Linked DNA regions of Homo sapiens: region 2 is linked to region 1. Evidence: fine-mapped expression QTL. A gene starts in region 1. The other region holds a variant in brackets. All regions are shown on one strand. Distances are from middle to middle. Region 1 holds the start of TSC22D1 (TSC22 domain family member 1). Region 2 has its middle 72 kb from the start of MIR8079.

What was found. PIP is the estimated chance that this variant, and not a neighbour inherited with it, causes the effect. A credible set is the group of variants that fine-mapping cannot tell apart.
Region 2: its variant is the best candidate, but not a certain one, in a credible set for the expression of TSC22D1 in whole blood (INTERVAL, PIP 0.67).

Annotation. Positions count from the first base shown.
Region 1 is chr13:44,573,629-44,579,000 of GRCh38, reverse strand. It overlaps TSC22D1 (TSC22 domain family member 1), which reads left to right and starts at 2,671. Exons shown (of 3, transcript NM_183422.4): 1 at 2,671-5,372. The coding sequence starts at 2,927. TSC22D1-AS1 (TSC22D1 antisense RNA 1) reads right to left here and starts at 3,105. Exons shown (of 3, transcript NR_038381.1): 1 at 2,731-3,105; 2 at 1,824-1,959; 3 at 1-899. RefSeq lists silencers at 979-1,028, 1,209-1,408, 1,679-1,918, 1,929-2,638 and an enhancer at 2,959-3,198.
Region 2 is chr13:44,266,011-44,271,382 of GRCh38, reverse strand. No RefSeq gene overlaps it. Among named protein-coding and RNA genes, the nearest start is that of MIR8079, 72 kb to the right of the region's middle. The variant C/T (reference allele first, on the strand shown) is at 3,016.

The sequences.
Region 1 (5,372 bases):
CTTTTCAGTGTGGGAGACCCCACATAAAGCAACAATGTATCATAGCTTTGACACTGGATAAATGGGATGTTAAGAGTGCACTTCTATTCAATAACATGCAAATGGTGACATAATTCACTTTTTGAAAGCTTCCCCTTGGAACAAGGGGAAGAGTTCAGAGAAAACTAAAGGTAAAAAGTTGAACTGACAACTAGAGGTGTATCAAAACTGCAAATGACAATCGTTTTTGCTTTAACAATCTTCTGAAATAGGAATGTAAATCCTTGAGACTTCCTGAATCAGAGGTCTAACCATAAGCGTTGATTCCCCTAACAACCTAAATTTAACAAAATGAAAATTCCTCCCTACAGTTTTTCGGCTTGCTTTATCATTTTTAAATTCCTGGGAAAGACTTACATTCTCGATTATTGGTAAGAAACGCTTAGAACTAGGTTTTGACATGAAATACCAAGAAAGTAACCGCCAGTAAATTGCCCCCAATCAAACCTAACATTGCTTCTGTAGAACTACATTTGGACCCATGAAATGTAACGTGTGTGTGTGTGTGTATTTTAAAACTGGAATTTCGGATGGCTTTTTCTTTTCTAGCCCTAAAAGGCATTCTTATCATTTGTGTTGCTCACATGTCCGGACCACCTTGCCTCCTGAGTCAAACCAATGGGGGATATAGCCAGGACGATGAACGAAAAAGGCGTCGCTGCTTGGAGACACCTGTTGAGGTCAGTCGATTACAGGGCCGGCCTGCTTCTGTCCTCCAGTTAAGGATGGATTGCAACCACTCCTCGTTAGAGAAGAGCCTAGCCCAGAGGAGCTCAGGCAGTTAACTGGAAACAGCTGCAACATCTGCCCGGCCGCCTCGCCCCTGCCCGTGGAAGGGCGAGGGGACCGCATGGCAGCAACTGCACTGCACAAAAGACAACACCTATCACCGGGAGCCACCGGCCTTCCATAGACCCCACAGCTCCCGGCCCTAGGGCATCCCCCGAGGAGGCAAGGGCCGGGGGCGAGCCCAGGTGCGGCGAGGGGGAGGAGGTTTCCGCCACGCGCCAGGGAAGAAAGCCTGACTCATGTCGTGGCAGCGGCAGCAGCCGCGGCGGCGGGCTCCTGGGAACTGAAACTCGTGATGCTGTTGCTGCGGAGAAAAGCCTCATTACCCATTCCGCAGGCGGGGGACACCACCCAAGGCGCGCACACCAAGCGCCGGCGCTCCCGCCGCCTCCGCCGGCCCTTCCGCGCCGCGCCCCCTCCTCTGCCGCGTGCCCGCGCGCGCCGGCCGCGAGTGTGAAAAGAGCGGACACACCTAACCTGGGCGCGCGGCAGGCGCGCACCCTGCCCGCCCCCACCGGGCCGAATCACGCAGTCCGACCCGGATTCGCTCCTTCGGCCGGAATTCCCCACCCCCACTATCCCCTCCGGCTCCACCACTCCCGGCTTCGGCGCCTCTGCCAGCCTTCGGTAATTTCCGTCGGGAGACCTGGCGCTCGCCTAGGCCCGAAGACCCGCCGCCTCCTGCCCCGCCAGACCCGGCTTTATGTCTGCGGCGCCGAGGCGCATGCGCAGACGCCATCTTCCCTCCTCCTCCTCCGCCTGCCCCCTCCCCCCAGCCACCACCGCCTCCTCTCGCCGGCGGTCGCCCCTCCTCCTCCTGCGCTCCGCGCTGGTCCCTCCCCTCCCGATGCCGCGAGAGACTGGGGGATACGGTGGAGCCGGGGGAGCCGAAGAAGAGCACTAGTAACAACCACCACAGCCCCCTCCCCGCCCGACACCCTCCCTCGGCACCCACTCACTCCCCCGCCCCGTTTGCCGACACCGACCAACCCCACCTCGTTCCTTTGAACGGCGTCGGCTGCAGTCGCTGCACCAGCCCGTCTGGCCACCAACGCCGCGGAGAAAGGAGCCGCCGCCGCCTGCGGCCCTCTCCCGCCCGGTCGCGGGAGCAGCGGGGTGAGGAAGAGCCGGCTGCGGAGGAAGAGGATAAGAGAGGGTCGCACCCTCCGCCCTAGCGCACGTCCCGCCGCCCTCCGGAGAGGCTCGGGTGCCGGCCCCTTCCTCCCCGAGGACGTGTGCCGAGTCGAGGCGCCTGCCCTGAGGGAGGAAAATGCTCGGGCTCCATGGCTGCCAGTGATGGAGCGGTCCCTGGGCTCCCGCTGCCACCGCCGCCGCCGCGCCCCGGCCGTGCTCCGCGAGGACCCGGCGTCTCTGCGCGCCCGCCCGCGCCTCGTTGCTGGGCTCACCGTACCGGGCGCCTCGCCGCCGCCCCGCTCGCAGCCGCGTCGCCCCGGCCCCAGCCGCGGCCAGCGTTTCCTCACCGAGCAGCCGCCGCGAGCCCAGGGGGTTTGAAAGGGTCTGCGGGGCGCGGGGGGAGGGCCGAGCGGGGCCGGGAGGGGAGGTTTGAGCGACACTGAGCTCGGGGCTCGCTGGCGGCGGCGGCGGCCCCGGGGGTGGCGAGGGGAAGGCGACATTTGCTTGGCGCTGCCTCCGTGCAGAGCGGCCGGGAGGGCTTTGCAGCGGCCGCCGACGCGGCGGGAGGAGGGGGCTGAGGCGGCTTCGGAGTTGGCCGGAGAAGGTGGGCATTTCTCGCTTTTCCTCCCCTTCCTGCGCTCTCCCCCTCCCTCCTGCCCCGCACCCCACGTGAAGCAGAATATAAAGGGGGGTGTGAGGCTAGAGGGGAAAGTGAATGGCGAAGGACTGAAGGGATCCCCCCTTCGGGTCCCCGGCCGCCCTGTTCACCCTCGTTCATCCTCCTTTCCGAAGCTCGCTCTCGAAGGCAGGAGCGACCGGCGCCTTTGGCTGAGGAGGAGGAGAAGGAGGAATCGCGCCAGGCGGAGCGTCAGGTCCCGTTTTCCTCTCCGGCGTCTCCAATACAAAGATTACGGTGCAGAAGGAAATTGCACTCGTCTCCTCCGCGCCCCCGGTACCCAACACAATGCACCAGCCGCCTGAGTCCACCGCCGCGGCCGCCGCCGCTGCAGACATTAGCGCTAGGAAGATGGCGCACCCGGCAATGTTCCCTCGAAGGGGCAGCGGTAGTGGCAGCGCCTCTGCTCTCAATGCAGCAGGTACCGGCGTCGGTAGTAATGCCACATCTTCCGAGGATTTTCCGCCTCCGTCGCTGCTTCAGCCGCCGCCCCCTGCAGCATCTTCTACGTCGGGACCACAGCCTCCGCCTCCACAAAGCCTGAACCTCCTTTCGCAGGCTCAGCTGCAGGCACAGCCTCTTGCGCCAGGCGGAACTCAAATGAAAAAGAAAAGTGGCTTCCAGATAACTAGCGTTACTCCTGCTCAGATCTCCGCTAGTATCAGCTCTAACAACAGTATAGCAGAGGACACTGAGAGCTATGATGATCTGGATGAATCTCACACGGAAGATCTCTCTTCTTCGGAGATCCTTGATGTGTCACTTTCCAGGGCTACTGACTTAGGGGAGCCCGAACGCAGCTCCTCAGAAGAGACCCTAAATAACTTCCAGGAAGCCGAGACACCTGGGGCAGTCTCTCCCAACCAGCCCCACCTTCCTCAGCCTCATTTGCCTCACCTTCCACAACAGAATGTTGTGATCAATGGGAATGCTCATCCACACCACCTCCATCACCACCATCAGATTCATCATGGGCACCACCTCCAACATGGTCACCACCATCCATCTCATGTTGCTGTGGCCAGTGCATCCATTACTGGTGGGCCACCCTCAAGCCCAGTATCTAGAAAACTCTCTACAACTGGAAGCTCTGACAGTATCACACCAGTTGCACCAACTTCTGCTGTATCATCCAGTGGTTCACCTGCATCTGTAATGACTAATATGCGTGCTCCAAGTACTACAGGTGGAATAGGTATAAATTCTGTTACTGGCACTAGTACAGTAAATAATGTTAACATTACTGCTGTGGGTAGTTTTAATCCTAATGTGACAAGCAGCATGCTTGGTAATGTTAATATAAGTACAAGCAATATTCCTAGTGCTGCTGGTGTGAGTGTTGGGCCTGGAGTTACCAGTGGTGTTAATGTGAATATCTTGAGTGGCATGGGCAATGGTACTATTTCTTCCTCTGCTGCTGTTAGCAGTGTTCCTAATGCAGCTGCAGGGATGACTGGGGGATCGGTTTCAAGTCAGCAGCAACAACCAACAGTTAACACTTCGAGGTTCAGAGTTGTGAAGTTAGATTCTAGTTCTGAGCCCTTTAAAAAAGGTAGATGGACTTGCACTGAGTTCTATGAAAAAGAAAATGCTGTACCTGCTACAGAAGGTGTGCTGATAAATAAAGTGGTGGAGACTGTAAAGCAAAATCCGATAGAAGTGACTTCTGAAAGGGAGAGCACTAGTGGGAGTTCAGTGAGCAGTAGTGTCAGCACACTGAGTCACTATACAGAGAGTGTGGGAAGTGGAGAGATGGGAGCCCCTACTGTGGTGGTGCAGCAGCAGCAGCAGCAACAACAACAACAACAGCAACAACCAGCTCTCCAAGGTGTGACCCTCCAACAGATGGATTTTGGTAGCACTGGTCCACAGAGTATTCCAGCAGTTAGTATACCACAGAGTATTTCTCAGTCACAGATCTCACAAGTACAATTACAGTCTCAAGAACTGAGCTATCAGCAAAAGCAAGGTCTTCAGCCAGTACCTCTGCAAGCCACTATGAGTGCTGCAACTGGTATCCAGCCATCGCCTGTAAATGTGGTTGGTGTAACTTCAGCTTTAGGTCAGCAGCCTTCCATTTCCAGTTTGGCTCAACCCCAGCTACCATATTCTCAGGCGGCTCCTCCAGTGCAAACTCCCCTTCCAGGGGCACCACCACCCCAACAGTTACAGTATGGACAACAGCAACCAATGGTTTCTACACAGATGGCCCCAGGCCATGTCAAATCAGTGACTCAAAATCCTGCTTCAGAGTATGTACAACAGCAGCCAATTCTTCAAACAGCAATGTCCTCCGGACAGCCCAGTTCTGCAGGAGTAGGAGCAGGAACAACAGTGATTCCTGTGGCTCAGCCACAGGGTATCCAGCTGCCAGTGCAGCCCACAGCAGTCCCAGCACAACCTGCAGGGGCATCTGTCCAGCCTGTTGGCCAGGCTCCGGCAGCAGTGTCTGCTGTACCTACTGGCAGTCAGATTGCAAATATTGGTCAGCAAGCAAACATACCTACTGCAGTGCAGCAGCCCTCTACCCAGGTTCCACCTTCAGTTATTCAGCAGGGTGCTCCTCCATCTTCGCAAGTGGTTCCACCTGCTCAAACTGGGATTATTCATCAGGGAGTTCAAACTAGTGCTCCAAGCCTTCCTCAACAATTGGTTATTGCATCCCAAAGTTCCTTGTTAACTGTGCCTCCCCAGCCACAAGGAGTAGAACCAGTAGCTCAAGGAATTGTTTCAC
Region 2 (5,372 bases), 310 kb after region 1:
GAGGGTACCCCTGGGGCAGGCGGGTATGGTTTACTCATCTTCAAGCTGCAGGAAGTAGTGGCTCCAGGATAAGCACCTCAGCCTTCGGAGAAGGACGGGCTTGGGGAAGGGAGATTTTAATGTAGTGTAAACAAGACAGAGGATTTCATAAGCTTCTCGGAAACTCCTGGACCTGACACTCATCATCTGCTACTAAATTTGGCCCTTTCATGTTCCTTGCACAGGATATAATGGCAACCATGACACAGACTCTGGGCTGAATTTAGATAAACAACATGGCTGCTGAGGATTTGTACCTGTTAAAAGTCTAAGAAATGTCAAAGGTTGTAGTAAGTATGACTCAGGACAATTTCATTTAAGTTGTCAAAAGTAGGAAAAAGTCAGCAGTATAGCTGATCACTCTCTTTTGTGCTTTTTTGCACTTGTAATTTCCATGACTCTCACTAAACTGCGGGAGGTAAAACTATTTTTGTTCTCTGGGCTTTTGCGTCGTGTGTAAGCTGATTCCCAAGTTTGGGTAATATTGTGGAAAGCGTCAGTACCACCACTGAAGCCTCCTGGAGCCCCATCACCTCCACCCTCTTCCCGGGCAGGTGGAGTGAATCTCCCTGACTTTGAATTTCCAGAGTACTCGTGCATGCCTCGATTACAGCACTAGTTGCTTACAGCAAATTATCTGTTCACGAGTCTGCCTCCCCCACTGATCTTTGACCCCCATAAGGGGTTCTTTCATTGCCTTTTGTATTCTCAATGTGAGGACAGTGCCTGGGACACAGTAGGCACATATTTGATGCTGTGCGGTCATCCTGATTCTGGAGGATGATGTTTTTGGTAGTCAAATGACAATGGAATAGAGCCCCATGGAAAGACAGTTCGGAGGTAGAGGAAGGAGCAGAGAATTTGGAGACCAGAATTCCTTTTTTATTTATTAGATGTTCCTGTCACTATGGGCCAACCATCAGTTTGACCTTTTGTCTCCCATGCAGTGATAATAGTGCTTTCCTTCTAGATTTTTGGGAGAGAATTAAATGATGCAATAGATATGAAAATGACTTTGCGACTGGGCTGAGTTTTATGGAGGAGAAGCATCATCATTAATGAAAAGAAGCAACTGTAGCCAGGGATTGGGACAATCACACTGCTGTGTAGTTTCCTCACATGCTCTTTGGATGATCTTGGGCACGTAAATTACTTCTTGCCTGTTGTGGATTCTTCATCTCTAAGGAAATTGTCAGTTCTATTTCCCAGGGTCGTCGTGAGGATCAAAAGAGATAACACACGTGAATATAGTTTAAGATTATTTGATAAAGGGGGGATGAGTTTGTCCAGGGTCTTCCTTTTGTCTATTTTCTTTGCTGTCCTCTTGTCTGTCCCTGCCTCCACACCACCAATTCTGGGCCTATGTACGTGCATGTAACCCAGAGGGTTCTTGGCAGTCTGCTATGAGGATGGGATGGAGGAGGGCAGTGGAAGCCACCTGTGCTGAAAGCCCCCTTTTGGGGAGATGCTTTCAGGTGTACAAACAGACACATACATTTCTGATATATCTGTATCCAACTGGGCCCAGGTAATGCTTGCCACTCTTAAATAAGATCAGCTTTTTCTGTCAGCAAGACAATGTAAGCAGTTAGGGTTCTTCCCTGTGCACTGAAAATAAAGCACTTTGAAGCCTGATTAAGTAGATAACCAGGACCCTAGATTCACCAAAATTATGTTGCTACATTAGTATTTACAAGAAACATTAGCAAGCCAAGGCACACAGCTGGTGTGTCAGGGTATATGTTAAGACAGTAATCTGTGGTCTGTCCTCTGGTAGAGGAATACAGTTGGGTGAGACTCTGTTGTACTTTATTCATTTTATCCCAAGTTTCTCTTTCCAACAGGTCTTTTAGATTGTGAACTCCCAGAGAAGAGAGACATGAGGGATCTTGGGGTGTCAAGTGGAAGCTGAGAGGGAGCAGACGATATCCCAAGCCTGGGGGGCTGTTAGAGATTGGTGAACCCACCAAGTGACAGCATTTTCACCCTTCTCTGTCCACACCCCAGGTTAGCAATAAGACATGGGCAGAAATGGTTGTGTAGAGTTCCCAGAAGGACTGAACCCCAGGGAATGAGGCTACTGGCTCCAGCACCAATTGGATTCCTCTGCCCCTTACACAGGCTGGGAAGTACCAGGCACTCAGACTTCAAGAGATCATGTCAGCTCTTTGTTTGACCCTGGTAGGTCAGAAAACCCCAGTAGGTACTGAGACAGGATCTTGAAACCATTGCTCAGAGTTGGATTTGATTAAAATAAATAAATGTGACATTTCTTGGGTGGCTGAATATGAGCAAACTTACTCTCACTTTGTTGGCACTATTTATTTTAGAAATTTGACTCCCATGGGGCTCTATGGGGTCAGTTGATATCCAGTCCAGTTTCTAGCATCTACATCTTCAGGAATGTAGGGGTTCGAAGTGTTGGCAGTGGAGCAAGAGGAAAAGCTGACAGCCAGGTTTCAGAAGTCAGACTGGCGGGGTGTAGTGGAGACTGCCATTCACCTGAGCTGGGAGTTCAGGTGTCTTTCACTTCTCTTCCCATTGAGAATCTTTCAAAGCCGTGGAAGTTGTGACAATGGCAAACCACTAACCAGGTACCATGCTAAGAACGTAACACACATCAACTCATTGTTGATGTCAATACCCATAGCAACTTTGGGAGCTTCCCATTGTAGAGATAAAGAAACTGTACAGAGGTACAGAGATGTGCAAGATCACAGAGCTAGTCAGAGATTGAGCCAGGAGTGAACCAGGTAGCCCATCTTCAGAGTTCATGCCCTTAGAAACTGCATTCTTCTGCCCGTCCATCTTGACTCATCTAAGCTGGGTTGTTAGGTGTCATTTGCATATTCTTTTGTGGTAATTAAGAGGTAGAGTACTTATTTTTTTTAGGACAAATCTGTAGAAGTCCTAAAACAAAAGGGGATCTCTGGATAACTCTTGGTTGTTTCATGTCAGCAGTACAAAGCAATTCTC[C/T]TCCTAGCACATTTTGCTTAATCTAGATTTTGCGTCAACAAATAACTTTCAGTAACTGAGGCAATCTTGAAGCGGATTAGAGCAAATTCCTCCTGTGCTACTCCATAACTAAACCAAATCTGGTCTGGTCTGTGGGGCTTGTCTTTGGAAATGCTGAGATATAGGGAGTGGCAGGGTGAAATCACAACATTCTCTTTGCTTTCTGGCAAGAATGTTGAATTCTTACTGAGCGGATGTGGCAAACACAGAGTGGTTGGTTTTATCTGAACCGTTCCATTAAAATGAAATTTGACTAGGGATTTGAAGAGTATTATGACTACCTTGGGGAATTCCTGTGTGGATGTAAATAGAGCTTAGTATTTGTTTATAGGTAAATACCCAAAAGATCATCACAGGTGAGGGTTTAAAAGATACAGCAAGAGTAGCTTTTAAATCAGGGCTTTATTTTATATGTGGGTACTTCGCACATAGCACTAATTTCTGGATATGAAGATGACATTTCTTATGGTACTTTCAACTCATAGTTATATAGCAGAGGATTCATATAAAGACAGGTATATTTGTGCTCTATGTAGGTTTTAATTTTATCCTTAATACTAAGAGAGAGTAACATCCAAGTGACTAGAAGCTTCCCTTGTTAGAAGCCTTGAAACTGCTCCATTCCTCCCCTCTTTCTCCCTGCCCAGGGAATCTACCACAGGGCTTTTTGCTGCAATCAAAATAAGGCTCAGCAAAGAGCAAATCATTGAATGCAAGTCATCTGGGAGGCCCCTCCCAGCCATTTTGTCCTTAGTGCCCTTATACTACTTTTCATTTCTGATCCAGCTTTCCCCTTGGACTGAGATTTCTGACTCTCTGCTCCAAAGCCATCTGTCCATCCATCCATCCATCCATCTGTCCATCCATCCATCTATCCATCCATCCAGCCAGCCATCCATCCAGCCAACCATCCATCCATCCATCCAACCATCTATTCATCCATCCATCCAGCCAGGCTCCCATCCATCCATCCATGCGTCCATGCATCCATGCATCCATCCACCCACCCACCCATTCATTCATCCAGCCAGCCAACCATCCATCCATCCAGCCAGCCAGCCATCCATCCATCCAGCCATCCATCCATCCAGTCATCCATTCATCCATTCATCCAGCCAGCCAGCCAGCCAGCTACCCAGCCAGCCATCTATCCATGTGCCCATTCATTCTCCTCCTCAGGTATTATCTATTCCCTGCCTTCTCCACACTAGTCCTTCTTCAGTGCCCCAGACCCTCCTGCATTGGCTGTCCTTGCGGGGCCTGTGGACTTCCAGTGGCTCCTTCTCTCATCACACAGGGGTATGCAGGGCACTGTGAGGCCATCCTCAGGCTCACCTTCCAGGAGCCCCCTCCTGGCCAGTCTGAGTCCACTGTTGTGCTGGGGTGGCTGGTTGGCAGTTCCCATCCAGCACACCCCTCTGTGATTGGGTCTAAGCCCACATGCTGGAGTGGGAGGAGGGGAAGTTTGGGGGACAGAAGGCTCCACTTCTTTCTGTGTGGTGTGAGCTCCCTTGCATACCTTCTTTTATGCCCTGCTATGCATGGTCAGCTGGAAAAGCTTTGAGTCTTTATACATTGTTTTGTTTTGTTTTTAAAGCTTTAGAAACCCTGATAAAATCCTTTCTCTTACCAGTTGTTCTTACTTCTTTCTTTTTTTTTTGAGATGGGGTCTTGCTATGTTGCCTGGGCTGGTCTCAAACTTCTGGGCCCAAGCATCCTCCCACCTCAACCTTTTGAGTAGACTTACAAAGTCTATCGCCTTTAGGGTGAAGAACAATTTGAAATTCACAGCATAACAATGGTGTCTTTCCTCCAGTTAGCACGTCCCCTTCCTGGGGCTGCGAGTCTCAGCAGCACCCTCCAGTGTTGCTGGCAGATGAGTAGGGTCAACAAAGGGCCTCTGGGAAGACACAGCAGGTGAGAGTTCAAAGCACCCCTGACTGTGTGTGAGCCCACCTGCATGTGGATTTATCTTCCACAGACTGTCCTGCAGTGGTGCTCTTTTTCATGGGACATGGGAAGCTGCTTTCTTTTTATATTGCATTCAGATTCTGACATCAAAACTTGAATGGAAGTTCTTGATCTGGGAATCCCTGCCCACAGCCCTAGACCTGAGTGCATGGGAAGCTCTGTGCTGGGCTTGGCCATCACACTGCATCATCTCTCTCCCACTGCCCCTAGGAAATTTGGCCTCAGGTCTGTCCTGAAGCAGCAGCCCTGGGGTATGACCATCTGTGAGGCTGGCAGACTAGGGAATCCTCTGGGAGGGGGACCCTCCCTAAATTTAGACTCTTTTGTCAAGTGCAGGCACTCTCTTA